2 separate regions of the Homo sapiens genome follow, and region 2 is linked to region 1. Evidence: fine-mapped expression QTL. Tissue or cell type: lung. Region 1 holds a variant in brackets; the other region holds the start of a gene. All regions are shown on one strand. Distances are between the middles of the regions.

Region 1 (8,000 bases):
TCATCTGGGACTGTGGTCATCTCAAGGCTTGACTGGGAAGGATGTGCTTCCAAGCTCACACTCATGTGGTTGCTGGCAGCATTCAGTTCCTCAAGGGTTGCTGGCTAGAGTCTGCTCTCTTGTTTTTGGCCACATGGGGCTCTATATAGGGCAACTCACAACATGGCCTCTGACTTCATCAGAAGGCACAAAGATGAGCAAGTTGGAAGCCAGAGACTTTATGTAACCTAATCTCAGAAGTGACATTGCATCAGTTTTGCTATATTCTACTGGTTAGACGCAAGACTCTAGCCACAGCCCATACTCAGAGAGAGGGAATTATATAGGGCAATACGGGAGGCAGGATCAGGCAGACGTCTTAGAGTCGACCTCCACACTTATGATCTTGGTTGAAAGTACCACACATTTTTCCATATGGTCAATGACTCGAAAACAAGTAGTGATTTTTTTTCTCTCTCTCATTTGTGACTTTTAAAAATGACTGGAGTAAACCTCGAAAAATGCGTAGTGATTTTTTCCACAGGCTTCTTGCCTGTTTTTTCATAGTCTTTCTCTACTTTTAAGGAGAATGCCCCAAACATGAATGATTCATGTAGAATTTTACATTTTGAGTCTTTTCATAGAACGCAAAAGCCGATTTAATTCATGAGTAATTTTTTTGCAGAGCTCTCTACTTCCCAGCAGTACATTAGACTATTCAATCACAGTTCCCTTCATACTTAGAATATATACATAACAGTTATGGATGTAAATCTATAGGTCTTCAGAACAGTGATTAACGTGAATCAGAGCCTGAAATATCAAATTATTCAGGAAGAAGTTTAACATCATTTTCCTTTGACTGGGTTGTCTTTTTCATATTGATTTGTAAGAGCTCTTTATATATTCTGAATACTAGTCATTGTCAGTTATTTGTGTTGCAAATGTCTTTCCTGCTTTTTTTTTTAACCTTTCTATACTATGTTTCTCTATTTTAATAAGTAAAAATGCCTTAAATGTATCAATTGGCTCCTTAATGATTAGTGCTTTCTGTGGCTTCTTTAATCATCTTTCCCTAACTCAAGATCATAAAAATGTACTCTCTACTATAAGTGCTTTGTTGTTTTGCCTTTCATATTGATACATTTATTTCACCTGGAATGGTTTTTTTAATTGTTTTTTAAATTGACTGATAAAATTGTACGTATTTATCTTGTACAACTTGATGTTTTGAAGTATTTATACACTGTGGAATGACTGAATTTAACTAATTAACATACATTACCTCACATAGTTATCATTTTTGTGATAAGAACACTTTATATTCCCTCTCTTAGCATTTTTCAAGAATACAATACATTGTTATTAACTGTAGTCACCATGTTGTACAATAGATCTCTTGAACTTATTTCTACTATTTAACTGAAATTTTGTATCCTTTGATGAAATTGGTTTTCATGTATGGTAAGATACAATTACATTTTTTAAAACATGGTTTGAAACAGAGGAAAAAATGGCAAAAATCCATGATGGAGAATGCCATGAACATTTTAAGGGGTTCACAGTTCACTGAATCATCATATAGTAATAACAATCATTATAGCTAACATTTATTAAATGCCTACTCTTTGCCAGAAACTGCTCTAAGAACCTTCCCTATCCTAAGAATTAACACCTGTAATCCTCACGACCCTGTGAGGTAAGGATTATGATTACCTCATTTTTCAGATGAGGAAACTGAGGTACAAAGAGATTAAGTAACTTACTCAATATCAATTAGTTAGTGAGTAATGGGACTGAGTTTCTGCTAGGACTCTTAACTGCCATCTTGTCCTGCACCAAACAAAAACATGGACCTTTAGTGAACAGTACTCTATTAGTAGTGTCTTGGGCATATTGGTAAATAAATCCAAGATTTTGTACATAGGTTAGAAAAACGACTATTCTTGAAAATTTTAAATGAGTAATATCATCTCATTGTGTTGTGTTTTTCTGTTATGTCACCTTTAGGAGAAAACAGGTTAAATTGATGATCAATGTAAACTAAAAACCTATTCTAAGAATTTAAATATGTTTCAATTTTGGCAGGGGTGTATTTTTTTTCATATTTTACAGGGGCTTTTAAAAAATATTTTTCTCAGGCTGGGCATGGTGGCTCACACTTGTAATCCACACACTTTGGGGGACTGAGGCCAGGAGTTCGAGACAAGCCTAGGCAACAAAGTGAGACTCTGTCTGTAATTTTGAAAAAAGGCCTCTTTCTCTTAAAAACAGTTAGGTGTCCAAATACATCCTGAAGTAATCTTAGGGTTATTTATGACTTTCCCTGCTAATTTCAGGTTTCTATTATTTTTTGAACATGTATTTAATCCTTAAAGTTCTGTATATTTCAGATCTTAATAGTCTATAAACGTGGCTTCAATCTAAGTTCGAATGCCTAAACTAGTTTCTGTTTTAGAGTGCTAAAATAGAATTTTATGATTATGTCTACATTATTTGAATTATTTTCTGATTTTTTTTCTGAGCAATTAAAAATCAGTTGTGAATACTGTGTGTCTGAAGAGGAGACAAGTTCTGTTCAAATAAAACCAAGAAATAGTAGTAGCATATATTACTTTAGTTAAAAACTTTATTAAATGTCTTGATGAGAAAACCTCAATGCATCATTGTGCACTTAGTCTCTAAAGAGCAGGATACAATTATTATGTGTCGATTTTAAACTTTTTTTAAAGAACAGGATAAGCTTCTAGGGCATTCTAATAAGCTTCTAGGGCATTCTAATACATTTGTAGTACTATTGTATTAGCAAGAAAATAATCAGCAGGGTTTGCCCTCCAGCGGGCTAGGCTTCATTCTGGGCATGCAGAAGGCTGTATTCTGAGTTTACATTCTAGAGAGCTTATATTGCTTATATATTTCTCATTCAAAATGTTAAATTTCATTTATTTCTTAGCTTTCCTGTTAGCTTCTGATGCAATGAGTGTTCAGTATTATGAATGTGGACCAAACCATAAGACAGGGTTCTCCTATAGGCTGCAATTGTGCTTACTTAAAATATGGGATCCTGAGGGATGGCTCTTAATGTTATATGCCCATGGCTTATAAACAGCCTGTAGTATGATCGTTCTGTAATGTATAAAGTGCATTCTGAGTCTATTTTATTCTGGAAAACTAACTGTCTCAAGTGTTTTGATGTGTATACCATTTTGTTATATAGTTTGGCATTTTATTATTGGTGTCACTCATCAAATTTGGTAAAACGGGCATTCTCATTTTTTTCCAATGGAATTCTCACAAGTTCAGGTAATAACCTATCTCTCAGATTGTGGAGTTACAAAGTTGACATTTCTTTATCTTGCTGTTTATATTCAGTTATAAGATGGGGGTTAAATGCCTATTCTTGGCAAGCTAGTAGATCTTACGGTGAGCTGTTACTTGCTGTATGATCAGACAACCCAACTTATGTCACCAATTCTAGTCTGCAGTGTTTGGTGGGACACAGACAGCATCCTTAATGCCATGAGGTTCTTGATGAGGACGTTTTGGGAGACGTCGCAAAAATGTAGACTTCTTTTGGGAAATGATGACCCTGCTGAGCTTTGCTCCGCAGTCGAAGAGACTAATTGGCTTGGTGTGAGGTGGGTGCAGCAGGGAGCTTAGGGCCATCTCCATAGCAATGACCCTTCTCTGGCCTGGGTCACAGCCTCATCAGAATTGTGTAACGTCTCCACATGCACAGATTTGAAGGAAAGTGGAAAAAGAAGAAAGGGGCAGGAAAATGAACTGATATTTGTTAAATACCTCCTAAGTGCCTGGCATTGTGTAGAGAAGATTAAAAACATATAACACACATATGTATGTACAGATGTATAAGGACATTTATATATGTTTATACAGACATACAATAGAAACAGTATGTTTGATGTTTCCTCATTAGACTGTG[T/C]TCATCACAACAGCTCTGTGTTATACGTATTCATTCCTTATTTTACAAACCAGCAAAGAGGCTTGAAGAGATGAAGAGTCTGGTCCTAGATCTCCCTGAGGGTGATGCACTGATGTTGAAACAGGAACTTTCTGCCTGTAATGGTGTGTGCTCATTTTTGTTGCTGTTTCATGGTTGCTTAGTTGGTTTGTTTTCCGTGGTTCTCCACAAAGCCTCCTTTAAGGTTTGCTGCTGCGCTTTGTTTCCCCACTCCCCAAGAGAGAGTTGCATGGATAGAATTAAATATGGAGGCGGGGCAGGCAGAGAGGCCATGATACTGGAGAAATGTAGGACCATATTGAGAAGAGTTTGTCTGTCAGAAGTTTGGGCTTGTCCTGGGAGAACAGGGAGCCATTGAAGGATTTTAAGTGGAGATTCTAAAAAGGTGCAATTTACGCGTGTAGAAAATGGATTGGCAGCAACCAGTTAGGGGACTTTTTTTCACCTGTATGGTTTTTATCTTAAAGAAAAGATAGATATGAAATAAGTATGGCAAACATATATGTTCATTATTTCATCCTTTGTGCTCTTCTGAATTAAAAATTAAAGTATTGAAAATAAATGAAAATTCTCTAAATCTGGGAGGGACAGGGATTAGCAAACAATTCAGTCTAACGAAGAAACATCAAATAAACCCAAACTGAGAGGCATTCTATAAAATAACTGGTCTGTACTTTTAATGAAAGAAAAAGACTGAGGAACTGTTTCAAATGAAAGAAGATTAGACATGACAACTAAGTGCAGCGTGTGATCGCAGGTTGGGTCCTGGCCTAGAAATTTATTTCTCCTTTTCCATAAAAAGCATTACTCAGATGACTGACACAATTTGAATATCCGTACATAGATAGTAGCATTGTATCAATGTTAATTTCATAATTTCCATAAGTGCACTATACTTTTGTAAGAAAATATCTTTGTTTTTAGGAAATACATACTGAAAATTATTTCAAGGTAAAGGGGCTACATGTCTGCAAATTACTCTCAAATAGTTCAGAAAAAAAAAGAATGACATATATTTATAGCAAGAAGAATGATAAAGCATATATGTTAACATGTTAGCTTTGGGGGAATCTAGGTGAATGGTGTACAATAATTCTCTGTAGTATTTTTGCAACTTTTTGATATGTCTGAAATTATTTTAAAATAAAAATTAAAAAGAATTTGGTGGAAGGAGGAGCGGGAGGGAAGAACCAGGCAGGTCTGCCTCTTGTCCTAGGAGGCCAGGGTTGAGGTCCTAGATGAAGGAGTTACCTGCCAAAGCTGATGTGGGGACTTCCGGTGGCGGGGGGGAGGTTGCGGGTATGGGAGGAGGATCTTAGGGACCAGGGTTGCTTTGCGGTCTGGCAATTATGTGATCCAGAGTTTGTGAAGGGTTGCAATCTCTCCTTAGCCCAGTTGCCCTTATCTCTGTTAATGGTGTTGGTGTGTCACCAGGCCGTGTTTTTCTATTTTTTCTGCACATACAGGTGTAAGGAATACTTGTAAGTTCATTGGAATAATGAACTCCAAGACTGAGGCAGAAGGAAAATGACCCGGGTTAAGGCAAGGAATGTAGGCTGAGGAAAGCTCTCACTAGGGACGTTTGCAAGAATTAGGAGCCTCTCTGGAAATGAGAGCAACTGCCACAGAAAATGATTTACATATTTTTTAAAAGTTTTGGGTTTTTAATGTTTGGCTAAAGGAGGTCTGACTTAAAATGCGTTGCTGACTTAACTGTCCTAGGAGGCCAGAACGAAAATGTGACCTCCCTCCCAGCTCATTTTATTCATCACTGCCCAAGGGAAGGGAAGAGCTTTTCAGCTGCAAAGAGACAGTAGCTTGCAGACCATATTTGTAGGAGAAAGGAAAATGTAGCAGGGTGTGAACTCTGACAAAGCAATAAAAATTGGGGGATGACATCAATTCTTGGTGCAGGACATAAAAGTGGGAGGAGAGGTGAGGGAAGAAAGAAAGATGAGAAGGACCTGAAAATCTGACAAGAGATCTCTTCTGTGGCTGTTGTTAAACATATAGTAAGCATTCATGAAATTTGGCATTTGTTTTCTTTTGCAGCAAGCTGAAGAAACAAAGCTTAGTGGAAATTAAACAAATTAACAGAAGCAAGTGCAGATGGGCATCATGCTAAAAAGAAAGAAAAAAGTAAATTGCCTTCATTTCTATTCCATGCCCTCTAACACTCTGTGCTTTCCAATCAGCAACATGAGTTGTGTTATTACTGGCAAAGATGGACACTATATCCTAGCAGAAGACTTTTACAAGGAGTAAAAATATATGAACACACTTAGTAAATTGACTTAGGCCATTCCTTTAAGCAAATGTTTGGTCCTTCCAGATCATGTAAAAAGATAAAAAAGGAAAAAAAACAGATCTAGGCAATTATTTGTGGACTAGATTTCTGCTTGAAGGGTGAACAGGAAGCAAAGCAGGTGGAGGAGAAATGAGATTAGAACAATCAAAATGAACTCAAATAAAAGCCTGGTTGAACTATTGAGAGTTTTGAGGTTTTGTCAAATGTGGTAACCACTTTTTAATACCTTTAAACCGTGAATAGAGGATTCGTTGTATAAATTATGACATGTCCTTACAATGGAATGCATGCAGTTTTTCCCAAGGATGAGTTACTTCTCTATGTTTTGACATGGAAAGGTATCCAAAATAGAATATTGAGTTAGTTCTAGTTTTTTTGTTTTGTTTTGTTTTGTTTTGTTTTTTTCCGAGACAGAGTCTTGCTCTGTCGCCCAGGCTGGAGTGCTGTGGCGAGATCTCGGCTCACTGCAACCTCTGCCTCCCAGGTTCAAGCAATTTTCCTGCTTCAGCCTCCCAAGTAGCTGGGATTACAGGCACGTGCCACCACGCCTGGCTAATTTTTGTATTCTTAGTAGAGACGGGGTTTCACCATGTTGGCCAGGCTGGTCTCGAACTCTTGACCTCGTGATCTGCTCGCCTTGGCCCTCCGAAGTGCTGGGATTACAGGCGTGAGTGACCGTGCCCAACCTGAGTTAGTTCTAGTTTTTAAGGAAATAACTTATAGTGCATAAAAGAAAAAAAAAACTGAAAACACAGATACCAAATTGCTAACAATATTTATGTCAGGGTAGGAATGAAGATTGCAGAAAGATTTTCAGTTTAGATGTCCCACACTTTCATATTCTTAAAATATTTTTAAATTAATGTGTTTTTTTATAATCAGAAAAAATGAAGCTATTGGTGCTCTGAAAAAGAAAAACAATTGTGGCGAAACTTTTGAAAAAGCAGAGAAGAAAGGGGTTTGGTTGTAGAGTATGATTACAAGTCAGGCTAAATAGAAGTAGAAAAGCTCAGCATTCATTAGAAAACAAAGAAAGAAGTGCTCCAGCAGAGCCAGCCCATCCAGATAAGACATGGGATCTGGCTGTAAATTATTAGTGTGTGTTTTCAGCATCTACCATGGACCTCCCCCCGCCAAAGGTGCACAATTTGCACACCCCGGCTATGCCTTATTCATTTTTGTATCTTCCTCTAAAGTACATGCCCATGGTAGATGTTCAGTAAATGATGGTAGACAAAGCTCGGAAGACTAAATATGAGTGGGTTAAGATGGGAGAAAAACGCCTGTAATCCCAGCACTTTGGGAGGCCGAGGCGGGTGGATCACGAGGTCAGGAGATCGAGACCATCCTGGCTAACATGGTGAAACCCCGTCTCTACTAAAAATACAAAAATTAGCTGGGCATGGTGGCGGGCGCCTGTAGTCCCAGCTACTCGGGAGGCTGAGGCGGGAGAATGGTGTGAACCCGGGAGGCGGAGCTTGCAGTGAGCGGAGATCGCACCACTGCACTCCAGCCTGGGCAACAGAGTGAGACTCCGTCTCAAAAAAAAAAAAAAAAAAAAAGGGAGAAAAACGAGTAAGCTATGAATAAGTAACATTACTTTCAGAGAGCTTAAACTCATTCTAGTAAAATCTCAGAGAGGAAAAACTGTGAAATAGGGGGATGGGAAAATATTCTCTGGCACTTGCTCATGTGTGTTTGTTTTGCCATCCTTCAGATTTTCTTAGTGAG
Region 2 (8,000 bases), 28 kb after region 1:
AATTAGGTGACAGATCAAAGGAGTGGGACTGCTCAAAGCCACCCTACACTGGGGTCATGTGGATCCTCTCCCAGTGGCTTGGAACACAGGGACACTAGGTATGCCTGCACATACAAACTCGGAGTAATCAGACAAAATAAATATGTCCCTTGAAAGTTCAGTTACTGAGAAGCAAAGCATTTTGTTTTTATTTTTTAACTTTTAAAAACTCAGACATTTAAGTTTTTCTTTTACTTATGTGTGTTTAAAGGCAGCCACAACCATCTCTTGATTGGGAACTTGCACAGATCTCATGAATTACCTAAGACCCTTTCTCCTCTTATCATCGTGTGTCCTTAATTATTCATCCACAGATTAAGCACAGGAAATCATAGAATGTTAGGATAGAAAATAACCTTAGCCATGATGTAGTCATGCCTCTTTTATAGATGAGGAAAATAAAATCCAGATATTTTATTTATTTACTTAATGGATGCTTGCATAGAATTTACTATTTCCTAGACATTGGTTAAAGCACTTTCCTAATGTTAATCCGTCTAACCTTCAAAACAACCCTATGAGGTTGGTACTCTCATGCCCATTTTACAGATGAAGAAGCAGAAGGTCAAAGGTTCATTGGCTTACTCAAGGTCACATAGCTGGATTCACACTCAGGCTGTCTGTTTTCCAAACACCCTGCCCTTCTGCCTCTTACCATGCTGGTCGTCCATTGCTCTGCCCTGTAGCTTCTCTAATGGAAAGCGATTGTTAGCAGTGGAGCTGGGACTCGAACCCTAGTCTCCTGACCCCATGTCTTATGTTCGCTCCACTATACCAAAGTTCTACATAACAAGAGGTTAGACACACCATTTTATACAAGAGGGGGGCTTCAGAGGCTTAATTAGAGAAGTGATGAAAGCTATAATTTGAAAGAGAATTATAGGTAACTATCAAATAATTTTCTTGTTCACAACCCTTGTAGTTGATCAATTTAAAAACATGCTTTCTGGATTCAGTTTTCTCCTTGAAGATTTGAGGAGATAAGCTTCATCAGTTAGCTTTAGGGGACTCTAAGCTTCCAATGCTTCCCTGTATAACAGAGGTTATACTTGTTTCCTAAAGTGTGGTCCATGGACCAGCAGTATCAGCATCACTTGGGAGATAGTTAGAAATGCAGAATCTCAGGCCTCACTCCAGACCTCCTGAATCAGAATCTGCATTTTAATAAGATTCCCAGCTGATTCATGTGCACGTTATAAATTGAGAAACATGGCAGACTACCCCAGAAAGTGTCAAAATGGAAGCCTAGAAGCACACCATTCTTACAGAAAACAGTTGGGGGATGGGAGTACTGCTCCACAAGTCCCAACCATAGCAAAATTATGAGGCACAAGAATTTGGTCCTTGACTCAGTACCTGCTCCCATCTTCCAAGTTGCATTTCCCTTTCCCCTGCGTGTCCTTTAAAAAGTTGTCTTCCCCAGGGTACCCTCTTGGGTTTATTGTTTATTCTGCATATGTTAACTCTCTTTTTCTTTCCTACCTGATATAGTCCAAACCTCCATTTCCAGATGAAATTTCTCTCATGAGCTCCAGATCCATAGTTTCAACAATGTACCAAAAACCTCTGCTTGGGAAACCACTTTATTGTCTCTAGTACTTCTATGTTAAAATACTCAGAACTGGGCCGGGCGCGGTGGCTCATGCCTGTAATCCCAGCACTTTGGGAGGTCGAGGCTGGCAGATCACTTGAGGTCAGGAGTTTGAGACCAGCCTGGCCAACATGGTGAAACCCAATCTCTACTAAAAATACAAAAATTTAGCCGGGCATGGTGGCACGTGCCTGTAATCCCAGCTACTGGGGAGGCTGAGGTGTGAGAATTACTTGAACCCGGGAGGCGGAGGTTGCAGTGAGCCAAGATCGCACCACTCACCACTGCACTCCAGCCTGGGCGACAGAGCAAGACTCGGTCTCAAAAAAAAAAAAAAAAAAAAAAAAAAAAAAAAAGAAAAGAAAAGAAAAACAAAACAAAAAATATCCAGAACTGAACACCTTGCTCCATCCAAAGCCTCCCACGTCCTGTATCTCAAATACCCTTAACAATTCCACCATTGACTCAGCCTCCCAAATTAGACACCTGCTCTTCTACCTTGATGCCAAAGTCTTCTTTAAAAATTATAAATCATATTATATTACTCCCTACTTAACCTTACAGTGATTCATAATCACCTGCAAAAGTAGGTCCAAACTTCTTCCTGTAGATTGCATCCAAAGCCCAGAAGGGTCTGGTTTCTTCCTATATTTCAGATCGCCATTTTTTCCGCCTTTGATCCCTCCTTCCACCACTGTACCCCTATCCCCTCCAGTATTCCTCCAGCATACTAAGCCTGAACATGCCTTTCCTCCGTGTGTGACTGCTCAAACATCACTCCCTCTGTGAATCCTTTCCTGGATTTCTCCTCCTCCCCCTTTCTGTGTTGATTTTATAGTTTTTACACTTTTATCCTTCCATATTTCAAACAGTTTTGTAATGATTTCTTTTCATATCTGTGTGATAGATTTGAATCCTTGAGGAGAGGGAGTCTGCCATTTATTTGTCTTTCATCTTTATGTCTCTAGCTTCTAGCACAATGTCTGTCATTTAATGGGCATTCAGTACATAATAGATAGGTAATTGAATGAATGGATTTAGATGCCTGGGTGTTTTCTTTCTACTTGTATTCTATTCCCCACATCCTCTCCAAAGATTTCAGCATCATCAAGACATATTATCCTGTGTCTTCCTTCTGAAGATTTAAATTATAGTGATCACCAAATCCATGTTGATATGATAACAATGGTTAAGAAGTTTGAATATGTTATTTTCTCTAAGCAATACAGTTGTATATTAATCAGAATCTCCCAGAGAAAGCCCCTTAGAGCAGGCAGTTCCATAAAAGGAATGTCAGGAACTTCTGCAGGCTGGATGAGGACATACACTGAGTGAACAAGTCTGTCAACTGCTCTAAAGACACTGTCAATGCCATATAAAAGCTGGCCTTGTTCATCTAGCAGATCATGGGGGTGAGACAGTCCAGTGCCTCTCTGCCCCTACAATATATGAAGAAAGGGGAAGAAACACACATTGCCTCCTGGTAGATTAGGGGAGGACTTCTTGTACATTTTTAGCAAAATCCGAGTTCAGACCCAGCAATTAGACAAAAGGGTCAGCAAACTATGGTCGATGGGCTACATCTGCCCACTGCATGTTTTTGTAAATGAAGTTTTATTGGGACACAGCCATACCTATTCACTTTTGCATTATCTATGGCTGCTTTTGCACTTTGATGAAAGAGTTGAGTAGTTGAGACAGACACTGTTTGACCCACAAAATCTAAAATACATACTATCTAGCCCTTCCTAGCAAACATTTGCCAACCCCTAGAAAACTTTTAAAAAATGATGCTCTTCGACTTGAAATTTTTATAATCTTCTGTTTATTGTCAATAGGTGCTGCTGATTTTCAAAAAATGACTTAGAATCCTCAAATAAGTATACAGCCTTATATGCTGCTTAGACACCAAAGCTATGATAAGATTTGTCAGTTCTTTGTATCAGATGGGTTCAATTCTTGACATCAGCTAATGTTATAAAAATAACTACAAAATTGGTTGTAATAGAACCAAATCTAAGACTCTTTTTAATAAAAAAGATCACCATTGCTGGTGAGAAACCTATACTGAATGGGTGAGATGCCATTGCATTTATCTGAAGTTTCGTCTTTATAATCAATAATCATATACAATCCTAGTCAAGAAACTCATCTTACAGTCCTTGGGGATTGAACACTGTGAAAATAAACTTTTACTCTTCGGATGTGCTTGGATTTTGTTTTAAATTAAGAACTACAGAAATATATATCATTTCTAGTGGTAGAGGAAAATATTGCCACCCAGAACTTTCTGAATGTCTCTTTCTGCCCTAGGTCCATTTGTGATGAACACCAATGAAGAGATTTCTCAAGCTATTCTTGATTTCAGAAACGCAAAAAATGGGTTTGAAAGGGCCAAAACCTGGAAATCAAAGATTGGGAACTAGTGGAAAGCGGAAGAGCAGGTCTTGATGTGTCCTAGAATTTTGCCATTTCTGAGATTGAGCCATTGAAGGCATTCCATTTCTAAAGCTTATTTAGCCGGTGCTTCTAAAGAATTCCACACTAACGTGATAACATGGTTTTTGTAACAATAAATGTAGGATATTTCCTGGCACATGCAAATAAACCTAATCATTGTTTCTTTAAAAATCAGTGTTTTTCATTTGAGATACCTAAGTTACTAAGCTTCTGTTTAAAAAGTCGTTTTGTGTATGTTTGCCTTTTTTTGCATGTATGGATGGATGTTTTTATTATTTTTGTGCATGTGCAGGTTTTAAAAATCATATTTGATTGCTTTCTGTGTGTCATTGGCAGCAGATGCATGAGCATCTGAGGTCCCTTCTTAAGCAATCCCACTGAGATACAAAGGTCAAAGCTATGTGCTGGGGTTTCATGTTACAGGTTATCTGCTTTAAAATAACGGCAGCCCTGAACATTTGAGTCAGTTCTTAAAACTGCCCTGCTATTGGTAGGGACGCAACAGGATTACAGCCAAGACTTCTCTGCATTTTCTGCCAAAATCTGTGTCAGATTTAAGACACATGCTTCTGCAAGCTTCCATGAAGGTTGTGCAAAAAAGTTTCAATCCAGAGTTGGGTTCCAGCTTTCTGTAGCTGTAAGCATTGGTGGCCACACCACCTCCTTACAAAGCAACTAGAACCTGCGGCATACATTGGAGAGATTTTTTTAATTTTCTGGACATGAAGTAAATTTAGAGTGCTTTCTAATTTCAGGTAGAAGACATGTCCACCTTCTGATTATTTTTGGAGAACATTTTGATTTTTTTCATCTCTCTCTCCCCACCCCTAAGATTGTGCAAAAAAAGCGTACCTTGCCTAATTGAAATAATTTCATTGGATTTTGATCAGAACTGATTATTTGGTTTTCTGTGTGAAGTTTTGAGGTTTCAAACTTTCCTTCTGGAGAATGCCTTTTGAAACAATTTTCTCTAGCTGCCTGATGTCAACTGCTTAGTAATCAGTGGATATTGAAATATTCAAAATGTACAGAGAGTGGGTAGTGGTGAATGTTTTCATGATGTTGTACGTCCAGCTGGTGCAGGGCTCCAGTAATGAACATGGACCAGTGAAGGTAGGTGAGCTCAATTTTTAATGTGATGAAGTTCTTTTTATTGGCTCATACAGAGGACTTTCTTTGCCCTCACTATTTTTGAAACAATATAAAAATGCAGAACCATCCTAGTAGTGGACTGGACAGGATATATCCTGCATTTCTTGGTGACTGTTCTGTTTCTTAGTCTTATTAAACTTCTGGCCATGAGTATTTGAAAATGCTGGGGTGGGGGTTGGTTGTTTTTTGAAGTTATGGTAGAACATGAGCAGTCTGGAATCTTTTTGGATGGAGAAGTTTCTCCTCGGTTGCATATGCAGATGGCACAGTGGTTTTTTAATGAAACATTGATTTGTTTTTATGACTGATAACTTTGTGGGCCATTTATTTTCAGGTCTTTGTGAGCAGCAGAGGTTAGTTTATTCGTTTGGTAAATTGAAAATTGCAGTGCTTTCTATGAACATTTTCTATCTGCTTTTGCAAATTACCAATTGCTGCCATCCAGAAAAATGTTTTCTCAGAGAGTGTTTGGTTTTTTCGCTTCTTGAAAGGTGTAAAATTCAACACTAATCAAATCTTTGGTTCTGTGAGCAAGCATCAAATAGAGCTTAACGAACAGAGAGTAATGCAAAAAATTAACCAGAATGTTGCTGACTGCTGGAACAATACTTAGCCCAATTTTATGCATTTCATGGATTATATATATTTTAAGCTTCTATTTTGAAAATGATTCGGATGTAATTGTTTTGACTGAAGTGGTGCTAAATCATTATTGATTTAGGAACTTCTGGCCTTGAAAAGACAATTAAATGTGAGTTTGAGTTTTTGTAGCTGTTGTTTAGGACGTGCATTTTCAACAGGGGTGATATCGCCCCCAGCAGGGGAAAATTGGTTCGTGGAGGGATGAAAAAGTTTTACCCTTTTGATACATCACGCACAGACGTACATACAGTACATATGGTATGTAGTTTAAAATACGTTATACATTCAAATTGCATAGGGGGAAAGTGTCTTCAAAGGCTCCTGGCTGGTGTTGGTGGCCTGGCGAGGGTGGGGGCTGATATTTAAAAATGTTGAACACTGAGCTGGAGGTGAGTGGGAAGTCACCTTGTCTGGCAGCCAGCACTTTTCTAACTTCTCAAATTCCAAATTTACATGGGAGAAATCACAGTGTTTGGCTCCATTTTACTGCCACCAGCCTTGATATTGGATCTCAAGGCCAGATTGTAGGTAAATGGGAATCTGACTGTAAGCATAGGTAACAGGAGAAAACGGTCTGACTTGTTTGAAGCAAGTAAGACTTTTCCGACTGTCCAGCTTTTTCGTAAGTTCATGAAACAGAAATCCTTTAGATGTGCTGGGCTCCTCGAGTTTTAAAATATTTCCATTTTCCTTGTAAAACATCACTTTATCTGATGGTATAATAAAGGAGACTGAATTGTTGGACATAAGTCATATTCTTTAGGTTGCTCAGCTCTTTCAAAGAGCACAAGCACCAAGAATGTCTCAGGTGTCCTGGGCACTGTGAAGTTTTATTTATTTATTTATTTATTTATTTGAGACGGAGTCTCACTCTGTCACCCAGGCTGGAGTGTAGTGATGCAATCTCAGCTCGCTGCAACCTCTGCCTCCCGGGTTCAAGTGATTCCCCTGCCTCAGCCTCTCGAGTAGCTGGAATTATAGGCACGTGCCACCATGCCGGGCTAATTTTTTGTATTTTTAGTAGAGACAGGGTTTCACTGTGTTAGCCAGGATGGTCTCGATCTCCTGACCTGATGATCTGCCCGCCTTGGCCTCCCATAGTGCTGGGATTACAGGCGTGAGCCACCGCGCCCGGCTGGCACTGTGAAGTTTTAAATGCTTTGAATGTACTGTTAATATATAAATTTGTTGAATGGAGTAACGAAGGAAAGCAGCTGAATTTGCATGTGACAGAAAACAAGTTGTTACACGTGGAGGATGCAGCATTATATACTTACTAATACGATTAGCAATTTTTTTTCAGAATATATCAGAATTTCCTTTAAAAAGTGAAGCTACATATACTGAACTTATATCCACCCTACCCCTCGCTCAATTAAATTATTTCTGATATGAAGGAAAGGATTGCCTATAGCTAAACAGAAGTTTTGGCATAGATATGACTGAGTGGTAAGGGATAATGAGATATATAATATTGGTTATAGTTTTCTTTTTTCCCCAACTTTTAAGAAAAGAAAATCTAAGAGGAAATAATGTTTCTAAATGTTAAAGTTCTTCTTGTTAAAATTAAAATGTAGTGTGAAAACATATTCATGGTGGTAATGGTTTAGGGTGGTGGTATTTGAATTTTTTGTTTTTTTTTTTTTACTTTTTGAAATAAAATGTTTTATTTATTATAAGAAATTCATGGTCTTCCTCGGTACTTGGTCCATATGTATTTCTTTCTCCTCACCCTCCCCTCTTCTAACCACCTCTTTTCCAGAATGGATGGTGATGCCAATTTTGCTCCTAGGTTGTCCTCCAGCCACCCCCAGCCCAGTTTTCACTTTCTAGCTTTGAAGATTGTCCAGTTTTCCAGCTTAGACTAGCATTGCCTCTACGATAGTTCTAGGTATCTGTGAAGATTTTTTTTTTTCCTGTAGCAATCATGAAATAGCTACTAGTGCTCTGGACGATTGTGCTTAATGCCATTTGGGTGTAAGGCCTCCTAATTTCATTAGTCTTACCACTTGTGTTTGCAAGGATAGCTGTTTGGAGTCAGCAGTGCATGGAACATGTGAACTGAGACAAATCTGTTTGAAAATCTCAACTTAAGATTTCAAATCCACTGTGTATA

The links. PIP is the estimated chance that this variant, and not a neighbour inherited with it, causes the effect.
Region 2: VEGFD starts here. The variant in region 1 is fine-mapped to the expression of VEGFD in lung (TOPMed, PIP above 0.99).

Annotation. Positions count from the first base shown.
Region 1 is chrX:15,408,927-15,416,926 of GRCh38, reverse strand. All of the region lies in intron 6 of PIR (pirin), which reads left to right. All of the region lies in intron 5 of PIR-FIGF (PIR-FIGF readthrough), which reads left to right. Among named protein-coding and RNA genes, the nearest start is that of VEGFD, 29 kb to the right of the region's middle. The variant T/C (reference allele first, on the strand shown) is at 3,923.
Region 2 is chrX:15,381,060-15,389,059 of GRCh38, reverse strand. VEGFD (vascular endothelial growth factor D) reads left to right here and starts at 4,647. Exons shown (of 7, transcript NM_004469.5): 1 at 4,647-5,203. The coding sequence starts at 5,114. It overlaps PIR (pirin), which reads left to right. Exons shown (of 10, transcript NM_001018109.3): 10 at 3,944-4,261. The coding sequence ends at 4,056. The region is part of intron 9 of PIR-FIGF (PIR-FIGF readthrough); the gene reads left to right.